Linked DNA regions of Homo sapiens. The protein of the gene in region 1 purifies or fractionates together with the protein of each later gene. This does not show direct contact. Each region holds a gene or a part of one and is shown in the gene's direction. Other genes may lie near its edges. The genes, in order: PHF12, NFE2L1, LIN28A, SPICE1, KDM5A, BPTF and CHD9.

Evidence for each region.
Region 2: the proteins of PHF12 (region 1) and NFE2L1 purify together in Homo sapiens (affinity purification with mass spectrometry, with the first as the bait; one large-scale study listed by BioGRID). This does not show direct contact.
Region 3: the proteins of PHF12 (region 1) and LIN28A purify together in Homo sapiens (co-immunoprecipitation; one large-scale study listed by IntAct). This does not show direct contact.
Region 4: the proteins of PHF12 (region 1) and SPICE1 purify together in Homo sapiens (affinity purification with mass spectrometry; one large-scale study listed by BioGRID and IntAct). This does not show direct contact.
Region 5: the proteins of PHF12 (region 1) and KDM5A purify together in Homo sapiens (affinity purification with mass spectrometry; 3 studies listed by BioGRID and IntAct, with this or other methods). This does not show direct contact.
Region 6: the proteins of PHF12 (region 1) and BPTF purify together in Homo sapiens (affinity purification with mass spectrometry, with the first as the bait; one large-scale study listed by BioGRID). This does not show direct contact.
Region 7: the proteins of PHF12 (region 1) and CHD9 purify together in Homo sapiens (affinity purification with mass spectrometry, with the first as the bait; one large-scale study listed by BioGRID). This does not show direct contact.

Annotation. Positions count from the first base shown.
Region 1 is NC_000017.11:28,923,579-28,927,699, reverse strand, and holds part of PHF12 (PHD finger protein 12), read left to right. Parts: intron 1-636; coding exon 637-709; intron 710-971; exon of another isoform or gene 972-1,425; intron 1,426-3,397; coding exon 3,398-3,791; intron 3,792-4,121.
Region 2 is NC_000017.11:48,054,859-48,058,658, forward strand, and holds part of NFE2L1 (endoplasmic reticulum membrane sensor NFE2L1), read left to right. Parts: intron 1-1,527; coding exon 1,528-1,740; intron 1,741-2,173; coding exon 2,174-2,263; intron 2,264-2,485; coding exon 2,486-2,644; intron 2,645-3,436; coding exon 3,437-3,800.
Region 3 is NC_000001.11:26,420,558-26,424,678, forward strand, and holds part of LIN28A (protein lin-28 homolog A), read left to right. Parts: intron 1-4,121. UniProt on the Homo sapiens protein: RNA-binding protein that inhibits processing of pre-let-7 miRNAs and regulates translation of mRNAs that control developmental timing, pluripotency and metabolism.
Region 4 is NC_000003.12:113,448,659-113,452,779, reverse strand, and holds part of SPICE1 (spindle and centriole-associated protein 1), read left to right. Parts: intron 1-2,263; coding exon 2,264-2,444; intron 2,445-4,121.
Region 5 is NC_000012.12:378,908-383,028, reverse strand, and holds part of KDM5A (lysine-specific demethylase 5A), read left to right. Parts: intron 1-4,121. UniProt on the Homo sapiens protein: Histone demethylase that specifically demethylates 'Lys-4' of histone H3, thereby playing a central role in histone code. Does not demethylate histone H3 'Lys-9', H3 'Lys-27', H3 'Lys-36', H3 'Lys-79' or H4 'Lys-20'.
Region 6 is NC_000017.11:67,831,586-67,835,706, forward strand, and holds part of BPTF (nucleosome-remodeling factor subunit BPTF), read left to right. Parts: intron 1-4,121. UniProt on the Homo sapiens protein: Regulatory subunit of the ATP-dependent NURF-1 and NURF-5 ISWI chromatin remodeling complexes, which form ordered nucleosome arrays on chromatin and facilitate access to DNA during DNA-templated processes such as DNA replication, transcription, and repair.
Region 7 is NC_000016.10:53,323,768-53,328,395, forward strand, and holds the end of CHD9 (chromodomain-helicase-DNA-binding protein 9), read left to right. Parts: intron 1-252; coding exon 253-1,128; 3' UTR 1,129-3,730; downstream 3,731-4,628. UniProt on the Homo sapiens protein: Probable ATP-dependent chromatin-remodeling factor. Acts as a transcriptional coactivator for PPARA and possibly other nuclear receptors. Has DNA-dependent ATPase activity and binds to A/T-rich DNA.

The DNA of each region.
Region 1 (4,121 bases):
TTTGGAAGTTGCAACATTGTCACCTCTGCTGCATTCTGTGGTCAAAGCAAGTCATAAGACAAGCACAATTCAAGAGGAGGGAAAGGGACTACCTGTGGATGGGAGGCAGAGCAGATAATTTGCAGCTGTCTTTAATCCATCACAGCTGATTGAGGCAGGTATGAAAGGATGAATAGAGTTTTGACAGGCATAGCTTTCTAAAGGAAGAGTATTCTAGAGGAAGAAATAGGAAGTCTTCCATTTGAATAGTGGGAAGAGCACCTGAAGGGGTCTGGGAAGATGGAACGGTGGGACCATGTGACAGGGCTTTGAACAGCAGTTAGAAAAGCTTGGCTCTACACTAACAGGCTTTAAGAAAACAGTGTGGAGGACCTCTCAGTTATTTTATTATACCTTTCCCTACAAACCCAGTGTTAATAGCTCTGGATTTGGCTTCTCTCTCTAAGGTGTGGGAAGGGATGGTCACTCCTTAGGTTATTATGAGTGATGCTGACTTAGGCATTTTGGAGGAGACAACCCTAGCAGTCCTGCAGGACTGGCCACAATAGGAGTTTAGGAACATGCAAACCTAGCTAGGCTTTTCCTACTGCCTCAAAGGGCTAGTTATTTAGTCTTGCCCTTGTCTGTTCCCCACAGTAACCCTCCACTGAGTGAAGAAATGTTGCCTCCTGGAGAGTGGATGTGTCACCGGTGCACTGTTCGCCGAAAGGTAATAATGCTGCTTTCTGAAGACTGTCCAGAAAGCCTGATCCAGAGCACTGATATGCTAGAGCTAAGACGGCCTAGCCCTGAAGGCATTCTTGTCCCTTCTTCTTGTCTCTTCCAGCCCTGGAATCACCCCACTCTTCCCATGGTGACTGTTTGGAATCCAGTAGGGCCTAAAAATCCAAACATGGGCTGCTGAAATGGGCAGAAGAGGTGTGTTAACTTACTGAGCCATGTTTAGTCACTAGTGACAGGAGTAGTCTTACCTTCTTGTTGTCCTCCTAATAAGTGGCCTTATCCATGGCTGAAAAACAAAGGCTGCTTCTCCAGCTTGATGGAAAATGGAGTTTTCTCTCACCCCAGGGCAAATAAGTCACTGGTATCCAGAGACTTGGCATACTGACGGAGAGGATTTTGAACGCATTTGTACCCCAAGTTGCCTAATCTTTCTTTAGCTTCCCTTCCTTCAGCTTTGATAATTCAGTACTGGCTTCAAGAACATGGTTTATTATTTTCTACTTTGAGAACTCTTGTGGGTAACAAGAGCTAAATTCTCCCTTATTAAAAAAGGAAGTAGGTGTGCTTGCACCCAAATTATGATTGACCCAACCCTCAAATTACAGGCTATGGATTAGAATTTGTCTGTGCATTGTAATCCACCCCCCTGTGCTCCCCACACTAATTATACACCAAGCAACTTTCCTATGTTGTGACCTCACCTCTATTTGCCTGGTCCCCGAACATGATGTCACAATGAATGATGACTTCCTTGGTTGCAGAAACAGGATGAGATGATTAAGATTGTGGTTTATGTGTGTAACAGTTTCAGCCTTTAAGAAAGAAAGTAAACAAGCAGACATTATTTTTCAAATACGTGCATAAGGGTTCATATTTAAAAGCAAGCCAAAGCCAGGTCAACCACCTAACCACAGCTGTAGTTAAATTTCTCCATAAACCAGGCTGTCTTCCAGCCTCTCCACCTTCCAAGATCCTTTCCTGTGCATCCCTAATTAGGTTAGAGCAGGGCCTGTTAGAGGCACCTGCCAGCCAGGAGCCCTCTCAAACTTGCCACTCAAAAAAGCTGGACCTGAAAAGGTTTAGGGGAGCTGAAGGAAAAGGGGTAAAGACGGTGGAGAAAAGGAAATATTATGTTAGTGCCCATCGTGTGCCAGGTGTTTTAATTACGTTATCCCATTATCTATCCATCCAGCCATAGATGGATACCGAATGCTGGCCGTAGGTTTCCATTTTAGAAAGGAAGAAACGGAGGCTCAAAAATGTAGATTAACTTTCCCAAGGACTCAAAGGTATTGACAGAACCAATGTTTGAACCAAATTCTCTCATTCCAAACCTCTGTTACCTCTTCATCAGTTTTCTAGAAGGAGAGCTACTTGTTGGGGATTACAGTATGCCCTTTTCTAACATGGCACTTCTCCTGAGATGCCTCTCTTACCTTTCACATGGACCTCTGCCTACCAGTGCCAAGTCTGCCTTTTCCACCATCACCAGCACTACTCCCCTTTGGCCTCTTGTATTTACACTGAAGTGGATTGAAATAATACATCCTCTGGCCTTCATCAGCTCCTGACATTCAGGCCCTATCATGATTCGTAGTGGAAGACTAGGTCCTACTCCAACTCCAAATTATCCCTTTCGTATATATGACCCTTTTTATCTCCCTCCACCATATCCCTGAGAGGAGGAGGAGAAAGATTTTTCTGTCTCATTTTACAGATGAAGAAATTCCTGCCCACCAGCCTGAGTCACCACAAGGTCAGAGGGGATCCGTGGCAGAAATAGGACAAGATCACAGGTCTCCTACCTGGAGATCAGTGTTAAACCTTCATTTGACCACTCTATTTGGAGTCCTGGAGGAAAATGTACTATCAGATATCCAGTCCTACTGAGTACACTTAATCTTTTTCCATTTCCCCACTTTCTAAGAAGTGTCACTTATTTTGAGCAAAGTTTTTATTTTTAAAACCATTCAGGAGGTCAGAAGGCTCTATAGTGATCTCACTGATTTTTTTTTTTTTTTTTTTTGAGATGGAATCTTGCTCTGTCGCCCAAGCTGGAGTGCAATGGCGCAATCTCAGTTCACTGCAATCTTTGCCTCCCAGGTTCAAGCGATTCTCCTGCCTCAGCCTCCTGAGTAGCTGGGATTACAGGCACATGCCACCACACCCAGCTAATTTTTGTGTTTTTAGTAGAGATGGGGTTTCACCATGTTGGCCAGGCTGGTCTTGAACTCCTGACCTCAGGTGATCTGCCTGCCTCGGCCTCCCAAAGTGCTGGGATTACAGACGTGAGCCACCGTGCCTGCCCCATTGATTTTTACTATTGGTCTCACTAAATTTATTCTCACTGTGTTACCTTTTTAGCCCTTTACCCTATACTTTATAGATGTTGTATGTCATACAATGAGTTAATGTTAATGATATATATTTTGTATAGTTATTCCTAACTTACCATGCTTTTTGGTGATTCTCTGATGCAACAGTTTTGTCAGCTTTAGTTCAGTTAGAGTTGTGTCAACTTTAACAGACCAGTGTTCCAAGTGACCAGGTAGATGAGTCTGTGATATGTGAAGGCCTTTTACAGTTTTGATTAGTGGTCTACCAGGACTTTGTAGCACCCATCTCTTTGTTTCATGGTACTTTTCATGATGGGCCCACCTGTTCATTTGCACAGAAACGAGAGCAGAAAAAGGAGCTGGGTCATGTCAATGGACTGGTGGACAAATCTGGCAAACGGACTACATCCCCCAGCAGTGACACTGACTTGTTGGACAGATCGGCCAGCAAAACTGAACTAAAGGCCATTGCCCATGCCCGGATCCTGGAAAGGAGAGCCAGCAGGCCTGGCACACCCACATCCAGCGCCAGCACAGAGACTCCCACCTCTGAGCAGAATGATGTCGACGAAGACATCATTGACGTGGATGAGGAACCAGTAGCAGCGGAGCCAGACTATGTGCAGCCCCAGCTGAGGCGGCCCTTTGAGCTGCTGATTGCTGCCGCCATGGAGCGGAACCCCACCCAATTTCAGTTGCCCAATGAACTGACTTGTACCACTGCACTACCAGGTCAGCCAAACCATCATCATATCCCTTCCCAACCCCAGTTTCCCCAAAGGACCAGCACAAGAGCAGTGCTGCCTGTGGAGTCACTGTTCATGTAGCTACTGTCTTGGGTTCCTGTTCCTAGTTCTGCTTGGAGAGATCTTTGAAGGTCTTAGCCATTACAGAGCTTACTCAGTTTTCCATTTTCTCAGTTTCTGAACTTCTTTCCTTCCCCTCCCCCAGAATTATCTTTTTCCTTTTTTTTTTTTTTTTTTTTTTGTGAGTCTCACTTTGTCACTCAGGCTAGAGTGCAGTGGCACGATCTCGGCTCATTGCAACCTCCGCCTCCCAGGT
Region 2 (3,800 bases), about 19 Mb from region 1:
CGCCCAGGCAGCAGCACGGGCGGGGCACCCTCCTCAGGCCCCTCGGAGCTAGCAAGGGGCCACCCTTCCAGCCTGGTGTGCTCCCTGAAAGCCAAGAGCTCCTTGCAGCCCCCTGTCCGGCTTCCCGGCACCGGCTGCCCTGGGGCTCATCTCGCAGACCATGACCCGCCTGGACCGCAGCTCTCACAGTGGTGGGGGCCATGCCAAAGGCAGCCGGCCCCTTAACTCTTTGCTGGCTGGTCACCGGGTGGCCCAGCCCGCCTCTGCTCCTGGGTCCAGGGCTTCTGTTCAGGTTGGTGTATGTGGGGAGACTAAAGTAGTACGTCTGGGAGGTCTTAGGGTCAGGGGGGGTTAATGGGAGAAGAATACCGACTTAGAGGTAGGGAGGAGGGTCTGATCTAAGGAAATTGCTTTCTGGAAAGTGTATGTCTGCATTTTAACCCCTGGATGGAAGGCAACACTTTAGGGTTTCTTCAGGCTTGTAGGGAGGGCTCGACTACAGGGGGGTGCCATGTATAGGAAGCCCAAATAGCTCTATTTATTGGGGTTATATGCTGTTAGTGGGGGTGGCAGTTGGTGCAGCAACTGTTCACGAGCCACCAGGGTAGAGCGGGAGGGAAGCATTTTTGGTGCCCAAGGTGGCAGTTGTAGCTGAGCAGTGATGGGGTTTATGTCCTTGAGGGGGTTGACTGATGGGGATTTGGTGAGTCCTGGGGTATGGTGAGGGAATGAGAGCACTGGTGTAGGGGACACAGTGAGGCTGGCCCGAGCAGGGGGTGGGGTGCACCCCTGGGGATCATCTGACTGCCTGAGCCTCCCTGGAATGGAGGCAGCAGCTAGGATCAGCTGAGAGGGAATTCTGGCGGGGATGAGTCTTGAGGTGAGCCTGGGCTTGAGGAGTTGTGGGTGTTCAGCCTTACTCTTGCTGCCAGCTGGGGAATGGGGAATGGCTATAGGAAGGGCTGGAGACAGCATGGCGTTGTCATTGGTTGCATCAGGTGGTTGGAAATGCAGGGATTTTCCTCTCTAGCCCACCCCACCCCTTTATGCAAATGAAATGGTACCACAGGCTGATGCAAGCCTGGCCACTGCTAAGTAATTCTGCATGACAATTCGCTCTTGCTTGCCATGGCCAGCTTCCTCCAAACCAAGTTTTAAGGGGTCCAATCCCCAAAGCTAGAGGTGTCTCCTGATGTTCCCCTTCTTTCTTATGTAGGGGGGAGGCGGCCCTGCCTTTTGTCTGGGTGTGTCTTGGTCCAGATCCTAATCCTTTGCACCCTTATGGTGATAGTCACACTAATGGTTTTGCTAGTGGCTCTTTTTTTTTGTGGGAAGGGGATAGTGTCTGGAAGTAGATGAATGAACACTTGCTGGTGCAGGGACCAGGGGGTAAAGGCTGGCAGGTGAAGAGCTGGGAGGGGCCCCACCCAGGACTAACTGGGGTGACACTAGGAGGGAACTCTGAGGGGCAGGACAAGGAAGGGACCTTGGGATCTTAGAGCTAAAGTCATGTGATCTGTCTTTCAGGACATAGATCTGATTGACATCCTTTGGCGACAGGATATTGATCTGGGGGCTGGGCGTGAGGTTTTTGACTATAGTCACCGCCAGAAGGAGCAGGATGTGGAGAAGGAGCTGCGAGATGGAGGCGAGCAGGACACCTGGGCAGGCGAGGGCGCGGAAGCTCTGGCACGGAACCTGCTAGTGGATGGAGAGACTGGGGAGAGCTTCCCTGCACAGGTACCATCGCCCCTGCTCACTGGGCTCTCTTCTTGTCCCTACTACCCTGACACAAACCAGGCTGGAGTTCTTCCAGAAACTTCCTTTAGAGAAGACAGGTGGTGTGTGGGGTGGACCTGAATTTCTGTTTTGGGTTGGGGTCTGTAAGTCACAGTGGCTGAGCCTTGGAAGGGGGGAGTGGAAAGCAGCAGATGCAGAATGGCCAGGCCGTGGCAACAGACAGTGCAAGGGAGGCAGAGCATGTAGCATCTTCCTGCTTGCTTCAGGACTCTTTCACTCTCTTCTGTTGTTTCTGGGAGTTTGGGACTCGGGGCCAGCCATTAGCCTGGGAATGGGAGGGAGACTGCAGGGCTTCAGCCATTCTGGGAAAGAAGCTTCAGCCCCAGGCAGCCAAGGCCCAGGTCAATCAGACTTACAGTTCCTGTTGCCACAGGTGCCTAGTGGGGAGGACCAGACGGCCCTGTCCCTGGAAGAGTGCCTTAGGCTGCTGGAAGCCACCTGCCCCTTTGGGGAGAATGCTGAGGTGAGCAGGACTCCAGTGAGAGTCCACCAAGTGAGCAGGGCAGCCTGTACCTGGTGTGTCCCTCCATGGCTGAGGGGCCAGCTGTTGGTTCTGGCCTTATTCTGGCTGCTGGGGGTAAATGCAGAGGAAGGAAGAACAGAAACAGGTCCAGGTGGTAATCTCTGGGAGGAAAGCACAAGGTTTTTCCTTCCCCCTTGTTAAAGCCTCTGTGTTTTGCCCTAGTTTCCAGCAGACATTTCCAGCATAACAGAAGCAGTGCCTAGTGAGAGTGAGCCCCCTGCTCTTCAAAACAACCTCTTGTCTCCTCTTCTGACCGGGACAGAGTCACCATTTGATTTGGAACAGCAGTGGCAAGATCTCATGTCCATCATGGAAATGCAGGTAGGATTGTCGGAACCGGGCACAAACCTATTGGATTTTGCACAGATTGTCTTAGCACTCAGTTGCTTTTCCATCTCCAAGGAGAGAAAGTGTAATACTTTCCCTGAATCATAGAGAAGTGGGGACAATGAGAAGAAACCTGTCCAGGTGTGTCCTTGGGGCAATGGGAGCTGGAGACAGGTAGGGTTTGGGTTAAATAAAACTCAGGACTCAGCCTTCCAAATCAGGGCCTGCCTCCTGGGTGTGCCTTCTTCCTTTCCTTCAGGCAGATAGGCACTTGGCTGAATGCTTCCAAGGTTGTGCGTTAATAATAGCTGACATTCACATGGTGCTTCACAGCCATCGTTCGCTCACTTGGCCCTCACAGTCATCTAGTCAGCCTTTATCTCAAAGGTGAGGAAATTGAAGCTCAGAGGTTAAATGATGTGCCCATCGTCACACAGCAAGTGGTGCAGCTAGGTTTTCTGACTTAAGTCTGGGTGTTCTTTTCACTGTGCTGATTTTGCAGTAACAAGGTAGTGTTTTCTTCCTCTCCCTCCAAGATGGGGGAGTCTGGCCAAACATGAGGAAAAGCTGATCAGTCCTATATTAGGGTGGAGCCTACATGGAAGAACCCATCTCTGCCAGGCCTGGTGGACGAAGCTGGGTCAGGAGCTGACACTGTGGGCTTTGGTTTATAGTATTTTGCCTTTACACCCATGCAGCTGTGCCTCTGTTGGGTGCCTGCAGTGTGTGAGCCCCAGGGGAGGGAGTCAGTTCCTAGTGAACAGTGGTGCTCTTCTCCCCTCCCAGGCCATGGAAGTGAACACATCAGCAAGTGAAATCCTGTACAGTGCCCCTCCTGGAGACCCACTGAGCACCAACTACAGCCTTGCCCCCAACACTCCCATCAATCAGAATGTCAGCCTGCATCAGGCGTCCCTGGGGGGCTGCAGCCAGGACTTCTTACTCTTCAGCCCCGAGGTGGAAAGCCTGCCTGTGGCCAGTAGCTCCACGCTGCTCCCGTTGGCCCCCAGCAATTCTACCAGCCTCAACTCCACCTTCGGCTCCACCAACCTGACAGGGCTCTTCTTTCCACCCCAGCTCAATGGCACAGCCAATGACACAGCAGGCCCAGAGCTGCCTGACCCTTTGGGGGGTCTGTTAGATGAAGCTA
Region 3 (4,121 bases), on another chromosome or scaffold:
CGTGTCACTGCACTTCAGCATGGGCGACAGAGCAAGACTTTCTCAAAAAAAAAAAAAAAAAATTAAGTGATAAGGAATCTGTGGTTCCTTCATCTTGATGAAGAGCATGTTTCATTTAAGTTCCAGTTTGGAATATTACCCCCCAGCCACCAGCATAAAATACGAATGCTACTTACTCATGTTCCCTTGAGCCAGGACTAGGTAAGTGCACAGTGATCCCTTTTGCTTCTCCATTTTCTATGACGACTACTCCTTGTTGACATATTTGACACTGTTGTTTTACTATAATAGATGAAGCTGTAATGAAGTCTATTCTGGGTAGGGTCTGAGATGCTGTCACCTCCGCTAATGTCAAGTTGGTGGTGCAGTAAGTGGCATGATAGAATGAGCTCTGAGCTTTAAATCAGGAACTCTGGGTTCATCTGACCCTGGCTTTGCTACAGAACTAGCTGTATCAACAACTACTTTTTTTTTTTTTCTTGATGGCTGCTGGCTGTTTGCTAACTGCTTTATAAATATCAGTGTCCTTAAATTTTGGTACAAACGTGCAGTGTTCTAATAGGATTATTCCATACATATTGTTCTAAATCTTGCTTTTTGTTTTTTCTTTTAACAATATTATTTGGTGATCTTTCTCAGCTGAATGATTAAAAATCTGCCTCCTGTTTCATTAATTCATTCAAAAATGTGCTAGGCATTATTTCAGGTACCAAAATGTGGCTGTGAACAAACCAAAGACTTTACGTTGTTCTTAATGGCTGCGTGGTATTCATTATTATAGATGTACCATATTTATTCAACCATTCCCCTTCAAATACACCAGTAGGTTATTTCCAATTTTTTTAAAGCAACAATGAGATACTGAGTATATGTGTCGTGCTAAGACTTCCTACTGATAATCTACTTATATTATGTTGTGTAATTCTTTTTTCTTAGTGATTTATGGTATATTTTTGTAGTTTTACCAGTCTGATTATCTGTCTTAACTTTTCAGTATTTTTCTTAACAATGAGGTGTTTAAATCCTCTGAAATGTATTTTGCATATGTATCATACAAAGTCTGTAGGAATATGACTTCCTTTCCCAATGGATTATTAATTTTTATAGCAGCATTTATTGAATTATTTTTCTTACCTATTGATTTCTCCATATATTCTCAGATCTCTGTGATTTTCCATTTTAATCCTCTGATCCATCTGCTTGGGTTATACTGTCTTTCGGTAACATTATTTTGATATAATTTCAAACTTTAAAAAGGCTGCAAGAACAATACCCAACACTCCCACATAACCTCTACCCAGATTCATTGACTCTTAACATTTTGCCCCATTTGCTTTATCATTCTCTATCTTGCTACAGATAGTTTTTTTTTTGAAACCATAAGTTGGAGACAGTAAGCACTTTTATCTCTAAATATTTCAGTGCGTATTTCCCAAGAATGGGAATATTTATCTTTTTTTTTTTTTTCTGAGACAGGGTCTCACTCTGTCACCCAGCCTGGAGCACAGTTGTGTGATCTCTGCTCACTGCAACCTCTGCCTCCTGGGCTCAAGGGATCCTCCCACCTCAGCCTCCCCAGTAGTTGGGACTACAGGTGTGTACCACTGTGCCTGGCTCATTTTTGTATTATTTTGTAGAGATGGGTTTTTGCCATATTGCCCAAGCTGGTCTCGAATTCCTGGGCTCAAGCAATCCGCCCATCTTGGCCTCCCAAAGTGCTGGGGATTATAGGCATCAGCCACTGTGCCTGGCTGGGAATATCAATCTTACATCGTTTCAGTACACTAATCATAATCAGGAAATTAAACACTGGTACATTTATCTATATACCATATGCAAATTTTGTCAATTGTCCTATTTTTTTTTTTTTTTTCCTGTTTCAAGATCCAATCTGGAATCTTGGATTTCATTGAACTGTTCAGTTCTTCAGGCTTTGTCTTTTTATGACCTTGACATTTTTGAAGTCCTGTTTTATAGGAATGTCCCTCAGTTTGGGTTTGTCTGATGTTCCCTCAAGGTTAGATTCAGGATGTGCATTTTTAAAGTCATAAGTCCTTAGTGCATCATATTAGAAGATATGTGTGTCCCATTGTAGGCAAAGCTAAACTCAAAGAACTTGACTAGGGTATTATCTGCCAGTTTTCTCCACTGTAAACTTGCTGTTTTTCCCTTTGTAGTTGCTACACTGCTGATTATATCCAATTTAAATTGTAATATCTGGTATTCTTGGCAATTTATATTTTCCCATAGCCTTTAGAATCACTCAATCTTCCAATCCAAGATCGTGGTATGTTTTTGCATTTTTTCCTTTAATATATTTGAGTTTTTTCTTCATATAGGCTTTTTACCTTGTTAAATGTATTCTGAGGGTTTTGGTGTTTTTGTTTGTTTCTGAGAGAGGGTCTTACTCTGTCGCCCAGGCTGGAATGCAGTGGCATAATCTTGGCTCACTACAACCTCCGCCTCATGGGCTCAAGTGATGCTCCCACCTCTGCTGGGATTACAGGGGTGAGCCAGACAGAGTCTCGCTCCATCACCCAGGCTGGAGTACAGTGGTGCCATCTCTGCAACCTCTGCCTCCCGGGTTCAAACAATTGCCTCAGCCTCTCGAGTAGCTGAGATTACAGGTCTGCGCACCATACCCAGCTAATTTTTGTGTTTTTTGTAGAAATGGCATTTCGTCACGTAGGCCAGGCTGGTGTTGAACTCCTGGATTCATGTGATCTGCCCACCTCAGCCTCCCCAAAGTGCTGGGATTACAGACAGGCATGAGCCACTGTGCCTGGCCTATTCTGTTTGTTTGGTTTTTTAACATGTTTTGCAGCCATTATTATGATTTCCTTTTTTTTCTTTTTCTTTTTTTTTTTTTTTTTTTTTTTGTTGTTGTTGTTGCCCAGGCTAGAGTAGAATGGCGCAATCTTGGCTCACCGCAACCTCCGCCTCCCGGGTTCAAGTGATTCTCCTACCTCAGCCTCCCAAGTAGCTGGGATTATAGATGCCCACCACCACGCCTGGCTAATTTTGTATTTTTAGTAGTAGAGACAGGGTTTCTCCATGTTGGTCAGGCTGGTCTCAAACTCCTGACCTCAGGTGATATGCCCGCCTCGGCTTCCCAAAGTGCTGGGATTACAGGCATGAGCCATTGCGCACGGCCCATTAGTATTATTTCTTAAATCATTGAGCATCTTGAGTTTGTTTTTTTGTTTGTTGGTTTGTTTGTTTTGCGACGGAGTCTTGCTCTGTCACCCAGGCTGGAGTACAGTGGCGCGATCTCAGCTCACTGCAAGCTCTGCCTCCCAGGTTCATGCCATTCTCCTGCCTCAGCCTCCGGAGTAGCTGGGACTACAGGCACCCGCCACCACGCCTGGCTAATTTTTTGTATTTTTAGTAGAGACGGGGTTTCACCGTGTTAGCCAGGATGGTCTCGATCTCCTGACCTCGTGATCCCCTGCCTTTGCCTCCCAAAGTGCTGGGATTACAGGCGTGAGGCAGCGCACCCGGCCTTTTTTTTTTTCTTTTTTAAATAAGGCATATCATATTGCTTTGATTATAAAAATACCACTTGATTTTGTATTTTTTCCAGTATTCTACTTATTTGGTCTTTTGATGATGGTATAAATACTAAGTGAGGCATTATGTGAAAAATGAATATTTCAGTGCTTCATAGCGTGACATTTTATTTTTATTTTATTTATTTATTTCTTTGAGATGGAGTCTTGCTCTGTCAACCAGGCTAGAGTACAGTGGCATGATGGCTCACTGAAACCTCTGCCTCCGGGGTTCAAGCAACTCTCCTGCCCCAACTGCCCAAGTAGCTGGGATTACAGGCGCCCACCACCACACCCGGCTAATTTTTGTATTTTTAGTAGAGACAGGGTTTCACCATGTTGGCCAGGCTGGTCTCGAACTCTGGACCTCGTGATCCACCTGCTTCAGCCTCCCAAAGTGCTGGGGTTAAAGGCGTAAGCCACCGTGTGTGGCTGAGCCACCATGCCCAGCTATTTTTACTTTTATTTTATTTATTTATTTTTGAGACGAAGTCTTGCTGTGTTGCCCAGGCTGGAGTGCAAAGGCGCCATCTTGGCTCACTGCAACCTCTATAGTGTGACACTTTAAATTTC
Region 4 (4,121 bases), on another chromosome or scaffold:
TCTTGAATTCCTGACCTCGTGATCTGCCCGCCTCAGCCTCCCAAAGTGCTGGAATTACAGGCATGAGCCACTGCGCCCAGCCTGTTTTGTTTTTTTGAGATGGAGTCTCACTCTGTTGCTCAGGCTGGAGCGCAGTGACGCAATCTTGGCTCCCTGCAACCGCCACCTCCTGGGTTCAAGCGATTCTGCTGCCTCAGCCTCCCAAGTAGCTGGGATTACAGGTGCGTACTACCACACCTGGTGAATTTTTGTATTTTTTGTAGAGGCGGGGTTTCGCCATGTTGGCCAGGCTGGTCTCGAACTCCTGACCACAAGTGATCTGTTTGCCTCGGCCTCCCAAAGTGCTGGAATTACAGGCATGAGCCACTGCATCTGGCCAGAAATAATGTTTTAAAGGATTATTAAAGCCAGACTTTAATATACATATTAATCATCTGGGGATCTTGCTGAAATGTGGTTTCTGATTGAGTAGGTCTAGGGTAGGACCTGTGCATTTCTAATAAGTTCCCAAGTGATGCCAGTGCTGCTAGTCTGAGGACCACGCTTTGAGTAGCAAAGGTCTGCATTTTATAGTGCAGGAGTTTTGTAAGTTAAATAAACTTTGTGGGCTAACCTGGTAACTTAAACCTTCATTTCGTTGTTTCTGGGGGAGATAGGGAGTCTAAATTCCAGCTAGGGAGGGTTTATAAAAGAGCTCCAAATGCTGGTTCCAGTGATGGTAGACACTTTCTTTTACCCCTTCTAGAGCCAAGGCCGCTCCTGTCAAGTTTCTGATAGGAGGAGCTGGGCACTGTCACTGGGGATTAGAAGCTCGTGAGGTGGCTGTGTTCATAAGGGCTTTAACAACAGTGGGTTGGAGGGCTTTGGTGAGGAAGGTTAGGGTGAGGTGAGTCATAGGGTAAGGGCCATCTCTGTCAGCACTGGGTCATGGGGAATAAGGACAATATGGGTATTGAATCATAGAAGTAGACAGAAGGAACTGGCAGAAGAGGAGCCAGAAAGGAATATTGCTAGTAGGGAGCAGCCAGCCATTGGTAGTGGTGTATATAAGTAAATATCAACTGCCTCAATTTTGAGTCACTGGGAGGCATTTATATATTTGTAGTTTTGAAGATTATTCATAACAGGCAACTCTTGGTTTAAAAAAGACAGCAGAGTCTAATGTTTTGCTTGCCTCCTTTTCTAATTAGTATGTAGATCAAGCTGGAAGGGACTATCTAATATTTCTGTCTTCACTACCCTCTTTTGTTTTAATTGGAAATACAAAATGATCTTTAATTCATACTGATTTTCCTATTTATTTATTTATTTATTACTAATAGACATAAGCTAAAAATCAGTGATTTTTATTAGGGATTATTTTTTTCCAAAGAGAAATGAAATAACTAGGACTGAAATAATGACATAATTAGGAATAATGAAATAATTAGGAATGACATAAGCACATTTGGGGGGGGAATTTTCAAATTAAATTTATGCTATATTTTTTGGGCGGCTATTTTTTACCCTACCTCTCATATTTCTTTCCAATCACCAACTATTCTTGAATCAGATACCTTAGGCCAAAAGTGGCTTGGGGAGGCTGACATATGGTTAGAAGGAGTGACAAGATTCCCAGAATCTTTGCCAAATGGTGCATATTTGAAGCCTGTAATTATAGAAACTTCTGTTTCCAAGATAGCAGATCCTCTTTTGTAATCTGTCAAACTGCAGATCTGTCTTCAAAGATGTGTGGCATTTACTTAGAGACCAGCTCACTTGGAGCAGTCTCTTTGCTCATGTGATCTTTTGTGCAGCTCTGCAGATACTAAGAGATACAGAAAAGCTTTTCCCAGAATATATGCTTAAAGGGACTGTAAATTCTATTGTGTGCTCACTATTCACATTTATATATAATAAGGGCTATGAATACTAACTTGCTGGCCATTAGTAAGTCAAAATTGTGTGAGATCGAGGTGGGTGGATCACGAGGTCAGGAGATGGAGACCATCCTGGCTAACACGGTGAAACCCCGTCTCTGCTAAAAATACAAAAAATTAGCTGGGCGTGGTGGCAGGTGCCTGTAGTCCCAGCTACTCGGGAGACTGAGGCAGGAGAATGGCGTGAACCCGGGAGGCAGATGTTGCAGTGAGCCGAGATAGCGCCACTGCACTCCAGCCTGGGCAACAGAGTGAGACTCTGCCTAAAAAAAAAAAAAAAATCGTGGGAGAGATTTTTCAGTATTCAGTATTCAATTTGTACTTTTTTTTTTTTTCTCCCAAAGACTTTTCCAGTAGCACAGTCTCTAACACCAGGTAGTATGGAGGAACGGATTGCAGAATTGAATCGACAAAGTATGGAGGCTCGTGGAAAACTACTGCAGTTGATAGAGCAGCAGAAACTTGTTGGTTTGAATCTTTCTCCACCAATGTCACCTGTTCAGTTACCTCTCAGAGCATGGACTGGTTGGTCACAAATTCATGATTTAAAAACTAGAAATATGAAGGTTTTCAGTTTTCTTGATTTTGCAAGTTTATATTAAGCCAAAAGAAGTATCAGAGCATATATTTTGGTGCCTTCAATTTTGCACAGAAAGAAATAGCCCTAACTCACAGGATAAGTGACAGAAATGGGATTAGAAGGCAGATCTCCTGATTATTTCTATCCTATGATGCCTATAGTTAATCTTTGGTGTCTGAGTTCCTAAATTATCGTACATCTAAATGGGATTCATTATAGTGTACGGTTCACTTAGGTCATATGCTGCAACTAAGCATGAAATATCTGAATGTTCATTTAGAATTTCATCAGCAATGAATTACAAGTTATTATTCTGTAAAACACTTAAAACATTTTCACTCAATTAAATTTTTTGTTACATTTAGGAATGTGAAAAGCTAGAGGGGATTCTGAATAATAAAATAGTAACTGAAAAAATTGTCATAGTATTCACATTCAAAAAGATACTGATGAAACGAAGTATGTATCAAGTTGCTTTTTATCAGAAATTGCATTATTAAGGCCCTCAAGGGACAGCTACATGAAGAGTACTGAGAGATTGATTTTGGCCCAGTAAAAGAGAAGGCTCTAATTGTCAGGAATAGAAAAAGCTCCATGTACCAGTAATTGATGTGTTCTCTGAGATGTTCAAACATTGGTGTTTGAAGGGGACTCATATGTCTTATTTCTGGTTGAAGTAGGTTACCTTTAAGATACCTTCCAATAAGACTTTTCCCCTCAGAAATTATTTCCTTTTTGAAATACAGACCCAGAAAGCAGACTCTTTTGGAAATTGCTGGAAAAAGATGGTAATGCATTTCCCCAGGGCTCTCTGTTTATTCTAGGCTTCCTCAAATGACAGTTTTGTCTACTGTTCTTCATAGTTATGAAGCCTAGAGACAACTTCTGATTAGAATAAATAAATCAATTAACTATATATGAACATGTACTATGTGCGAACATGTACTATGTGCGAACATGTACTATGTGCGAACATGTACTATGTGCCTGCCATGTGTGGGCTTGAATACTCTAGCATTTGAGTAGGGGAGCAGGCAACAAACAAATCAATATTTGGGATAATATCAGTTAGTGCTAAGTGCAAGGAAGAAAAATAAAGCAGATCAGCCTTAAGAATAATTTTGTGTTTAAATATACATCTTCCATTTCAGTATTTGTGTATGGTTAAAATATGCTTTTATTTATGTTATGTAATTTAGTCCTCAACATACTTTAAGAGGAGACAGGGCTAATATTATACCTATTTGATGAATAAGTAAACTGAGGTACAAAGAGGTTATGTGATTTATCAAGTTACAAAGCAAGTTGTGGATTTGCAACTGCGTTCTTTCCTGTCCAGTGATTTATCTCTAAAGTATTCTTTTTATAAGTAAAATTCTTATATTTGTTTAAAAAAAAGCTGCTGTGGACTATAATGATAAAAATAAAAATAAACCATATATCATGAAAAACCTCTTTTGTTTTCTAGGGTAACTGAGGAATATTTTGTAAAATTAAATAGGGTTTTATTACCTTGTAAAGCCAGGAAGTCACACAAAGTCAGGAGCCTCTGTGAAACTGCCTGTGATGAACATTAAGTCTTTCATTAGTAAATACTTAGTAAATATGCTGATTGATTACCT
Region 5 (4,121 bases), on another chromosome or scaffold:
TTTTAACATTATATTCCCTAATGTGAAAAAAAAAAACTAACTGACCTGCAAGCTGAGATTATAATAACCTTGAGATATGTTTTTTTCTCTTTTTTTTGAGATGGAGTTTTGCTCTTGTGTCCAGGCTGGAGTGCAATGGCCTGATCTTGGCTCACTGCAACCTCTGCCTCCCAGGGTCAAGCAATTCTCCTTCCTCAGCCTCCCGAGTAGCTGGGATTACAGGCATGTGCCAACACACCAGGCTAATTTTGTATTTTTTAGTAGAGATGGGGTTTCACTATCTTAGTCAGGCTGGTCTCGAACTTCTGACCTCGTGATCCGCTCACCTTGATCTCCCAAAGTGCTGGGATTATAGATTACAGGCGTGAGCCACCGCGCCCGGCTAAAATATGTTTTGTTACTACAATAATACAAATTTATTATTGCTTAATTATCTGGGAATTTTGTAAAACAACTTCTTCTTGTGGCCTTTCATATCTTATAATTTATATACTATTTTGAAATAAAAATTTATTCTTATTTAAATTGCAGTTACTTTTAGAAGATTTCACTTTTTTTTTTTTTTGAAATGGAGTCACGCCCTTGTTGCCCAGGCTGGAGTGCAGTGGTGCCATCTCGGCTCACTGCAGCCTCCACCTCCCGGGTTCAAGTGATTCTTCTGCCTCAGCCTCCCGGGTTCAAGTGATTCTCCTGCCTTGGCCTCCCAAATACCTGGGATTACAGGTGCCTGCCACCACACCTGGCTAATTTTGTATTGTTAGTAGAGACAGGGTTTCTCCATGTTGGTTAGGCTGGACTCGAACTCCTGACCTCAGATGATCCACCCGCCTCAGCCTCCCAGAGTGTTGGGATTACAGGCGTGAGCCACCATGCGTGGCCAGGAAGATTTCACTTGTAAGGAAAAACATGAGAATAATTCGTGGCATGTGGTGGCTCATACCTATAATCCCAGCACTTTGGGAGGCTGAGGTGGAAGGATTGCTTGAACCTAGGAGTTCGAGACCAGGCTAGGCAACATAGTGAGACTCCATCTCTACAAAAAATTAAAAAATAAATAATCCTGGCATGGTGGTGGACTCCTGGAGTCCCAGCTAATCAAGAGGCTGAGGCAGGAGGATTGCTTGAGCCCAGGAGGTCAAGACTGCGGTGAGCTGTCATCACACCACTGCATTCCAGCTTGAGTGACAGAGCAAGACCCTGTTTCCAAAAAAACAGAGTAACCATATTTAAATTATCTTTTATGATACATTTTAAAATTAGTGTCAGGTCAAAATTCTCTTACTAAAAAATTTGGGAAGTACGGTCTTACGCTAAAATACAGCTTGAGACTTTTTTTAATCAGTCAGGTAATGATGTTAGTAAGTAAGCACTGTGTCAAGAATTGTCTAGTATAGTTATATGAAAACCTATGGTACTAAAGAACAAATTATGCTAAATTTGGGTGGTGGGTTTCTTCTTATAGGGAACTATTAGGATAAAAATTCATCTTAAGAATGCTTTTTTGAAATTTTTATTCAATCAAAACTTACCTACTAAGTTTTGCTGTATGATGCTGTTTAAGATTCTGAATGTGTTTGACTGTAGTATGAATAAAATACAAAAAAAATTTCAAAAATTGGCTCGGCACTGTGGCTCATGCCTGTAATCCCAGCACTTTGGAAGGCTGAGGCGGATGGATCACCTGAGGTCAGGAGTTTTTGAGACCAGCCTGGCCAACATGATGAAAACCTGTCTCAGCCGGGCACGGTGGCTCATGCCTGTAATCCCAGCACTTTGGGAGGCTGAGGCAGGAGGATCACTTGAGGTCGGGAGTTCGAGACCAACCCAACCAACATGGAGAAACCTCGTCTCTACTAAAAATACAAAATTAGCCGGACGTGGTGGCACATGCCTGTAATCTCAGCTACTTGGGAGGCCGAGGCAGGAGAATTGCTTGAACCCGGGAGGTGGAGGTTGTGGTGAGCTGAGATCACGCCATTGCACTTCAGCCTGGGCAATAAGAGCGGCACAACTCCGTCTAAAAAAAAAAAATAAAATAAAACCTATCTCTACTAATTATGCAAAAAATTAGCCAGGTGTGGTGGTGGGCACCTGTAATTCCATCTGCTCAGGAGGCTGAGGTAGGAAATCACTTGAAACCGGGAGGCAGAGGTTGCAGTGAGTTGAGATAGTACCACTGCACTCCAGCCTGGGCAACAAGAGTGAAACTGTGTCTGAAAAAAAAATTTTTTTTTCAAAAATTATTTTATCATTAATAGCAATATGTTGTAGTACTCTTTAATGAAGCTCTTTCTACTTTTTTTTTTTAGACAGAGTCTCACTCTTTTGCCCAGACTGGAGTGCAGTGGCACAATCTTGGCTCACTGCTACCTCCATCTCCCAGGTTCAACCGATTCTCATGCCTCAGCCTTCTGAGTAGCTGGGACTGGGATTAAAGGTGTGTGCCACCACACCCAGCTAATTTTTATATTTTTAGTAAAGATGGGGTTTTTACCATGTTGGCCAGGCTGGCCTTGAACTCCTGACCTGAAATGATCTGCCCACCTTGGCCTCCCAAAGTGTAGGGATTACAGGTGTGAGCCACTGTGCCCGGCCAATCTTTATCTCTATTTTATTTTCATAAATACCCTAAGGAATTTGCTAGAGTAAGTATTAATAGTATGAGTAGTAATCTATTGAAACTTTCTCTGTCAGTGATTTTCCATTTAAAAGGTAAACCTTAGGTTTAATCTGATGGTAAGTTAAATTGCATTTTTTTTTTTTTTTTGGAGACGGAGTCTCCCCCATCACCCAGGCTAGAGGCGTGATCTCGGCTCACTGCAACCTCCCACCTCCTGGGTTCAAGCGATTCCCCTCACTCAGCCTCAGAAGCAGCTGGGACTACAGGCGCACACCACCACGCCTGGCTAATGTTTGTATTTTTAGTAGAGACGGGGTTTCGTCATGTTGGCCAAGCTAGTCACGAACTCCTGATCTCAAGTGATCTCCCATCTTGGCCTCCCAAAATGGTGGGATTACAGGTGCAAGCCACCGTGCCCGGCTGCACTTTTCTGGTTTTCTAAAGTCATAGGATTTCAAAATAGGGAAGGGGCTTTTAGAGGTAACCTAGTCTGAATACTTAGTTGTTCACAATTCTCCTTATAACGGTCATCCAGAGTGTTTAACTCCATCTTGAGAAGCTGATTTCCTTTTAAGGTTCATACTACTAATAAAGTACACTTTGTTTAAATATTCAGAAAACTTATTGAAAATATGTTATGATTAAAGGTTAAGTGTGCTTATCTGACGGTTTATTGGAATCTTGTCTTTGTGGGTTTTTTTAAGTCCTCATGGACATCTCTTTCCCCAACCTGTGAGAATGTTTGCAAAACTGAGATTTAAAGCTAAAAGGCAGACAAACTTTGATTTGTAGTTATTTTAGTTTATAATACTTTGTTCCCTAAATGTCATTGTGAGATTGCTGCTTCTCACGTTAACTTTTTTCTTTTACATTGAGGTGTAACTTACAGTGTAATGCACAAATTTCAAGCGTACAGTTCAATAAATTTTCATATGTGTACACCTGTTTTGTAGCCATCACGCAGATCAAGATATATAACATTTTTATAGCACTCTAGTGGGTTGTTTCATCTCCTTTCCAGTCAATACTTCTTCACAAAGGTAATTTATTCTGACCTTTATCATTGGGTGACTATTTATTTCATTAACATGACATTTTATTCTAGCAAGAGGCTTGGGCTGAAAACTGCAGAAAATACTGAGAGTTGAGATGTTTTAAGGTTAGGTGTGCCCTTTTTTAAAAAAAAGATTATTTTTGGCTGACAGTTTGTTGGCATCTATTAAGTTTTTTTTTTATATATGATTTGAAAATACTATGATTCCCATTGCTTTTTGATGGGAAGCAAATTTTCAGTCTTCTGAGTCATTAAGTCATCAGCATGATGGTTTCCTGTTTTGATTAAATCACTTCATCTTTCTCCCTATTATTTTTGATAATAAAAAGTATTACTTGGAATGCCTGTAATTTAATAGACTTCTATATGAATAATTAGTTTTTTTTTTTTTTTTTTGAGATGGAGTCTCACTCTGTCACCCAGGCTGGAGTGCAGCAGCACGATTTT
Region 6 (4,121 bases), about 39 Mb from region 1:
TGTTAGGTCCTCCTTTCCTCTTTCCTCAAGACCCTGTGTCTTCCCTTTGACTAAAGACCCTTAATGGTGGAGACATGGGGGTGAGAGACTGGTAGTCATGGTGGGCAAGTAGTATTCTGGGTGACACAGGAGCAAATCCTAGCTGATGCCCTTTTCCCTTCCTGCTCCTTAGCCAGGCTGGAATCCCTCTTCCTGGGAGATCTTCCCTGAGTCCTGTTTTGCACCTTGGTCTTCCTTCTCTTTGAGTGCCTGCTTACGGTGGTTATGATCTCAGCACTAGCTTAATGCTGACACTGATTATTCTAATTTTATTTATTTATTTATGAGACAGAGTCTCACTCTGTCACCCAGGCTGGAGTGCAGTGGCATAATCTCGGTTCACTGCAACCTCCACCTCCTGGGTTCAAGCGATTCTCCTGCCTCAGCCTCCCGAGTAGGGGACTACAGGCGCCTGCCACCACGCCCGTCTAATTTTTGTATTTTTAGTAGAGACAGGGTTTCACCATATTGGCCAGGCTGGTCTCAAACTCCTGACCTTGTGATCCGCCTGCCTCAGCCTCCCAAAGTGCTGGGATTACAGGGGTGAGCTGCCGTACCCGGCCTCTAATTTTTTTCATGCTTTTGGTTTTTTAAAATGATAAGCCTCAGGAGGCAGCATGTTTCTTAATTTAAAAAAAAAAAACCACTTATACATTAAAATGCACTTTAAAAGATCGAAGGTGACCGTATAGAAATAATTAAAATGCACGTAAATATAATTATAATGTTTTAATTGTTTTGTCTGCTGGTATATATCTAAAATTTTTATGTTTTTCTAGATAGTAAGTTATATTCAACTATTATTTTGTGATTGTCACATTTTAAAAATAGTGACAGTAATAGCTAAATTTATTGGACATCTTCTGAATTGCTGAATGATTTTCAAGCAATATTTATGAAAATTCAGTTTTTAAAAGGTAACAGCTGTATGGAGATATAATTTATATACTGTAAAATGTACCCTTGTAAAGTATATAATTTAGTGGTTTTTTTAGTATATTGACAGAGTTGTGCAACCATTAACACTACCTAATTCCAGCACGTTTTTATACCCCCGCAAAAGAAGCCCGCACCGTCAGCATCACTCCCTGTTCTTCACCTCCCTCCTGCTCATCCCTGGCAGCCACTAATCTACTTTGATTCCCTGTTGATTCGCCTCTTTTTTTTTTTTTTTTTTTTTTGAGGCAGAGTCTCGCTCTGTCACCTGGGCTGGAGTGGAGTGGCGGGATCTCAGCTCACTGCAACCTCCACCTCCCGGGTTTAAGCGATTCTCCTGCCTCAGCCTCCCAAGTAGCTGGGATTACAGGCACCTGCCACTGTGCCTGGCTAATTTTTTGTATTTTTTTTTTTTTTTAGTAGAGACAGGGTTTTACTATGTTGGCCAGGCCGGTCTCGAACTCCTGATCTTGTAATCCACTCGCCTCAGCCTCCCAAAGTGCTGGGATTACAGGCGTGAGCCACTGCGCCCCGCCTGATTTGCCTCTTATGGACATTTCTTATAAAGTGGAATCATATAATATATGTCTTCCATCATTTAGCCTAATGTTTTCAAGCGTTATGCATATCTTAACATGTATCAGTACTATATTTGAATAACACTTCATTGTATGGCTATACAGCCTTTTTTTTTTTTTTATGGAGACAGGGTCTTGCAGTGTTGCCCAGGCTGACCTCAAACTCCTGGACTCAGGCAATCTTCCTGCCTCAGCCTTCCAGCCTCCAGAGTAGCTAGGATTACAGGCACACATCTCTGTGTCCAGAGACCATGTTTTGCTTATCCATTTCTTAAGTTCATGGACATCTGAACTGTTTCCACTTTTTGGCCATTAGGAATAATGCTGCTGAGCACATTCGTGTACATGTTTTTATCTGTACGTATGTTTTCATTTCTCTTGGGTATATAACTAGGATTATTTGCTGTATTATTGCAAATTCAGTTTTAATTTCTTTCTTTTTTTTTTTTTTGAGACAGAGTCTCTTGTCGCCCAGGCTGGAGTGCAGTGGCATGATCTTGGCTCACTGCAACCTCTGCCTTCTGGGTTCAAGTGATTCTCCTGTCTCAGCCTCCTGAGTAGCTGGGACTACAGGTGTGTGCCACCATGCCTGGCTAATTTTTGTATTTTTACTAGAAGAGGGTTTCACCATGTTGGCCTTGCTTGTCTTGAACTTCTGACCTCAAGTGATCCACCCGCCTTGGCCTCCCAAAGTGCTGGGATTACAGGTGTGAGCCACCGTGCCTGGAAGAAAGTAATTCAGGAGTTAGAATGAATCCTTAGTGATAGATTGGTTAGGCTGGGATGTGGTGAGTGGGAGAAAAGGATTCAAGGATGAACTGACTTCTGAATCTCCCTTATTTCTCTTTTCCTTATTCACTCCTTATTTCTTCTCTTCATCTCGAATGGATCTAGTAATACTGATTTCTTTGTAGTTCTCACACACCTAACTCCTAGTCATCCATCCATCACCTTCTCCAGCCTGCCTTCTCTGATCACCATTCCCTTTACCGCCAGGTGGGGCTAAGTTCCTGTGTTTCCCACCCGTATAACCTCCAGGACCATGTGCATTAAGTGTTTTAGTTTCCAAATATTTGGGAATTTTTTAGCTATCCTTCTGTTACTGATTTCTAATTTAATTTCATTTTGTTCAGAGAGTATACTTTGTATGACTTTAATTTTATAAAACATTTTTAGAGGTTTGTTTTGCACCCCAAAATTTTGTCAGTCTAAGTGAATGTTCCATATGTACTTGAAAAGAATTTTGTATTCTGCTCTTGTTGAGTGGAGTATTGCATAAATGTCAATTAGGTCAAGTTTGTTGATAATGTTACTAAGATCTGTCTGACTTTCTGCTTGTTCTGTTGATTACTGAGAGAAGTCTTGAAGTCTGCAGCTATTGTGAAGGATTTGTCTGTTTCTCCTTGAAGTTCTAGCAATCTTCATGTATTTTGAGGCTTTATATTCATGTATTTTGAGGCTCCTTCCTAAAGTCCATAAACCTTTAGGAAGGATTATTTTATCCTCTTAATTATTTAACCCCTTTATCTCTATCTTTATCTGTTAAGACATGGAGCTGAAATGGGCTTTTAATATCTGGCCCTTCTTTAATTACAACCTACTTTGGGCAGGGACAGTCTCATTCAGTCTCTGTAGTGCCTGGTTCAATCTCTTGAATGCAGTAGGCAGCACAAGTAATTGTGGAACTGAATGATGAGTCAAAGAAAGCCTGTGGATTCTTTTCACGCTCTATACTGTCCAGTATGGTAGCCACTAGCCACATGTGGAGAGTTAAATTAATTAAAACTAGGCAGGCCAAGCGTGGTGGCTCATACCTGTAGTCCCAATACTTTGGGAGGCTGAGGTGGGAAGATCACTTAAGGCAGCAGTTGAAGACTAGCCTGAGCAACATAGTAAGACACTGTCTTTACAAAAGAATTAAAATAGTTTGGCAGAGGTTGGCATGCCTGTAGTCCTACCTAATTGGGAGGCTGAGGTGGGAGGATTGCTTGAGCCCAGGAGTTAGAGGCCCTAGTCAGCTATGGACCATGCCACCACACTCCAGCCTGGGTGACAGAGTGAGAACCCATCTCTTAAAAAAAAAATTTAAGTAAAATGAAAAGTTAGTTTCTCCTGTGGCACTAGCTGTTATATGTTCATTTCAAGTGCTCTATAGCCACATGTATTGCACCACACAAATGTAGAGCATTTGGGGCATTTCATATCATTGCAGAAAGTTCTCCTGGACTCATTGTAGTCAGTCTGCCTCTGTTAGACCAGGGGGAATTTACCTAACATCTCTTTTTCTCTAGCCTTTTATTTGCCCTAAATCCTGCACAGCTTGGGTAGCCCCAGCACTCTGGCTGAGTGAAGTCCTCCTTTGTGGAGACTCTGGGCCCAGCATTATTTGTGTATGTGATGGTATTGCATTTCTGCAATAAGATTTGGGGTCATGTGTGAGATGACTTTCCATTATTTGTTGTCCTTGGTGGTAGGGTGAAGAGGAAGTTAACATGTGATTAGAAAATCTGCCACAGTCCTGGTAATTTTTTTTTTTTTTTTTTTTGAGACGGAGTCTCGCTCTGTCGC
Region 7 (4,628 bases), on another chromosome or scaffold:
GTTTTACAGTATGGAGGAAGGCTAAAGACCTCTTTACTCACTTATTCTGTGATAAAATGAAAAGTGGAAGAGCTGTTTGAAGCTACCACTTATATAAAATTAGGTTATTGCTATTATAATTGATTATTTAATATCAGTACAGAATAAATTTACAAATAATTACCTATTTTTCATGGTTATTTGTATGATAAGCTAATAACTCTTTATTTTATTTTCATGTAGGGATTATTAATGAATATATATTTCTTCCAGGGATTTCTTCCAGAAAGCATGTATGAACGTATTCTCACTGGTCCCGTTGTGAGAGAGGAAGTAAGCAGGCGGGGGAGACGGCCTAAAAGTGGAATTGCAAAGGCCACAGCAGCAGCAGCTGCTGCATCTGCCACCAGTGTTTCAGGCAATCCTTTGTTAGCCAATGGACTACTTCCAGGTGTGGATCTCACAACTCTTCAGGCCTTACAACAAAACCTACAAAACTTGCAGTCACTGCAAGTAACTGCTGGGTTGATGGGAATGCCTACCGGCCTTCCTTCTGGAGGAGAAGCTAAAAACATGGCTGCTATGTTCCCCATGCTGCTGTCAGGAATGGCTGGATTACCAAATCTGTTGGGCATGGGAGGACTCCTGACAAAGCCTACGGAATCTGGGACAGAAGACAAAAAGGGAAGTGACTCTAAGGAGTCAGAAGGAAAAACAGAAAGGACAGAGAGCCAAAGTTCAGAGAATGGTGGAGAAAACTCTGTGTCAAGTTCTCCTTCCACATCCTCTACTGCTGCATTAAATACAGCTGCAGCTGCCAACCCATTAGCTCTTAACCCACTATTACTATCTAATATACTTTATCCAGGGATGCTTCTCACTCCAGGCCTTAATCTTCATATTCCAACTTTGTCCCAGTCCAATACTTTTGATGTACAAAACAAAAACAGTGACTTAGGCTCGTCTAAGTCTGTAGAAGTAAAAGAAGAAGATTCCAGAATTAAAGATCAGGAAGACAAAGGAGGAACTGAACCAAGTCCTCTCAATGAAAACAGCACAGATGAGGGTTCAGAGAAAGCTGATGCTTCATCTGGATCTGATAGTACATCGTCGTCATCTGAGGATTCAGATTCTAGTAATGAAGACTGATTCCCAGACTCTGCACTTAAAATATGAACTGATTTTGGATTTTTTCTTTAATAATTAATTGTAAATACCCCAGTGTTGAGTGCATCAATAACTTACTGACCGAACATTTCAGTTATTTGTTTAGAAGTGCAAACTGCTTTCAGAGACTTTTTGCATGTAATATTTCTTAAGATTCATAAGTTTCTGAACTCGTATGTACTATCAAATACATAAAGGTGTAAAATTACAACAAAAGGCATTATAATTTTGTTGGGGGTTAATTTTATGAAAATTATGCTCAATAAGAGTTGTATATTTAATATATTTGCAGTGAACACAGAATACTTTATGCATATTACTGATTTAATTTGAATATAGTTTTACAGCCTCCTTGACACCTATAATTTACAGATCAAAACTCAGCAATAATTTGGGCAGCTAATGAATGTCATGAAAGCTGTAGAATCTACATCACCATCCATTGCTTTAATTACATGAAAATGCTCTAGTGTTGTGATGCACTGCTGATGTTTCCAATTCAGGTACAAGTATGTTTTAAAGAAGAAATAAGTTTCCCAATCAGCCAATTTAACTGGCTACCTGTTACCTCAGCTGAGTTAGTTTAGGAAGTTTACATTCGTTTCTAATTCTATACTTGTTTTCAGGGGTTTTTTAAACACATCCTATATATCATGTCAATCTGGCAAGAAATATGACTTGCTTTTTGCTGAGCTTAATTCAGATATCAGTAAAATTAAGTCATAAAATAATCATGTGTCATGTGACTTTGGCACCCTATAGACATACTTAGTTTTAACTTTTCAAAGTTTGGCCTCCTATTAGAAATAATCATGTCTCAGATGAGTAATGTCTGTTTCCAGGGTTCAGAAAAGGCAAACTCATGAAATGCCACTGAAAAGAACTTTCAACACAGCATACTTCATGTAAAAGAAATTGTTTGTTTGCTTTCTTTGTGTAGATTTCTATTTGTGTTTTATGTCATGGAAATATTCCAGAATTAACAGATAATAGTGGTAAAGTAATATGCAGATAGTCTAAATTCATTTTGAGTTTCTAGGTGTAAGCAGACTAAATGTTGCCCAGAATCAGTGTTGGGTTATCAGTTTATATTAAATATACTGAGTTGCCCGTTTTGAAAATGCACTTTGAATAATCTCAAAAAGATGTACAAGTTATACCTGTAAACCACAAAAGTGAAGCCTGAGGCTTCTGTTCAATTTCATAGACTCCTTTACCATGTAAAATTTGTCTGATATTTGATTTGTGATACAATTTCTCCTGCTAAAGCTGCTATTATTCTGACAAGGTAGAGGTCCAGGTTCACCTTTATATATATTTAAAACAATTAGTACTGAATTGGACATAAAAATATTGACATTCTAAGGAGAGATATATGTTAGCATTTTTCTGGTACTCAAATAAGTTAGTAGTAAAGTCTGCAAGGGCATAAATTTAGGGGGAAAAAGTGTCCCAGTTCTCTCCTACAGAAAAAATACTTTCAGTATGTTTTGATAAAACTGTTGCTTTGTCATGAGTTAGTCAATTGTATCAGGTTTTCCAAGACCTTTACCAGTAAATTATGTTTCTGTATGTAAAATAACCCCTTATTAGAGAGACAGTGTTATATGTATTTACAAAATTATATAAGTTCCATTGGGATTGTATTGATTTTGTATTTTCCCAAAATAGTACTTTGAATTGATAGTCCTTTATGCAATGTCTTAGCAATAGTCTCTATAATGCCCATCCAGGAGAAGTGGGTAGTAATTCTTCATCATGAAAATGATATATTACATATTTAGTATCTTCCCTTTGCAGTATTGCACTTTTGTTTAACTAGAATACACCTATGAGATAGCCAAAGTTTCAAACACAGTTATCTTAGTTTACCGGTGGAGTATTTCAACACCAACCACATTTCCCTTCCTCCCTCTAATTCTACCCACATGATCTTTATTCCTTCCTTTCGCCAATTAAAAAAAAAAAAAAGGAAAAAAAATCTGTAGATCTTGTCACTAAAATCTAATTTATATCAAATTTATGAGAGAAAGTATTTTCCTAATTATGGTCAAATAAATTTGGTTAACATCCTAGTGATTCTCTTTCTATATAATAAGGCAATTACAGTTTTCAAAGCATTAAGTCTAACATAACTTTAAACATTCTCTTAGGTTTCAAGACACTTCTATTTAATATTCATTGGGGAAAAGTTGTCCAGCTATCAGCTAAGAAAACACATGCAAATATGGTTGTGTAAAGTTAAGGGTTATAAGGAAAAAAAAATCAGTAGAATTACATAATACTAAAGTTGCAGTTGAAAGAATATCCAAGTATGTGTTGGTAGTTACTAAAAGAATTATAGCTGTTATTGCCTTGTATTTATAGCCCTTGTTTCAGGTTTTATGATTCAAGTCTTAGTCCAATCTTTCTTTTGGACATTTGCAATATTTACCAGTTGTGTTTTGTGTAGTCTGAATTTGCTTTCTGTAGTTGAGCAAACGTCTTAAAAAGTCATTTGTAATTTATTAAATTACTTTCTATGATGTTCTATAGAGCAAATGGAAGTTTAATTATTTTTTATTAAACATATTCTTTGACTACCCATGATGTCAGCCTCTGTACATGAGAATACTTTTTAAAATTGAATTTTATATAGAATTTATCTTATTCCAGTTATGAGAGACACCATAGTTGTAAATCTTTAAAAGGAAAATATACCGTGGAAGAATTTTTAAAACAAAAATTGGCTATAATTTTATCCACAGTATCTTAAATGCTGTCAATTTTTCATTTTGATTTAATTTTATTAATATTGTTCATTGTGGATATTGGTGACTGCAAAAAAAGCAAAAGCTGCTTCTTGGGCATTCAAATTGTTAAACCCCAATTTTGCAGCCCAATCTCAACTTCATGCTGAACATTAAGTATTATTTTCTTAAGTTTTTGGACTTTTAAAAAACTCAGAAATACTCAGAGATATTCCTCACCTCTTTAAGAAGTCCATTTTGGAAATCAATAATTATTTTTTTCCCTTAGTCTTAAGAGTGTTTCCTAACTCATTGCCATGGGTAGTGTTCTTCGTAAACATTGAAGAAAATAGTTTTTCCTCTAATTACACAACTAAAACAGTGGAGTCTCATACTCATTTAACTTGAACACATTCAACTACACTTTCATGTTTAGAAAACCTTTTTTTCATTTTTGTACAACATAACATATAAACACAAACCAACTGCTTCATCTAGTACTCACCCAGAGGAACAGTAGTCTGTTCCAGTGTTGGAGGAAGAATTGCCTATGTTGGACATTTTTGAGAAGAGATATGAGGTATAAAATGATGTATTCTGTAATTTGTGAGCTCTGTGAGAGAAAAGAGTGATTTTTTTTTTTTTTATAAAGACAAGGTCTTGCTCTGCCTCCCCTAGGGTGGAGTGCAGTGGTGCGATCACAGCCCACTGCATCCTTGACCTGTTGGGCTCAAGCAATCCTCCCTCCTCAGC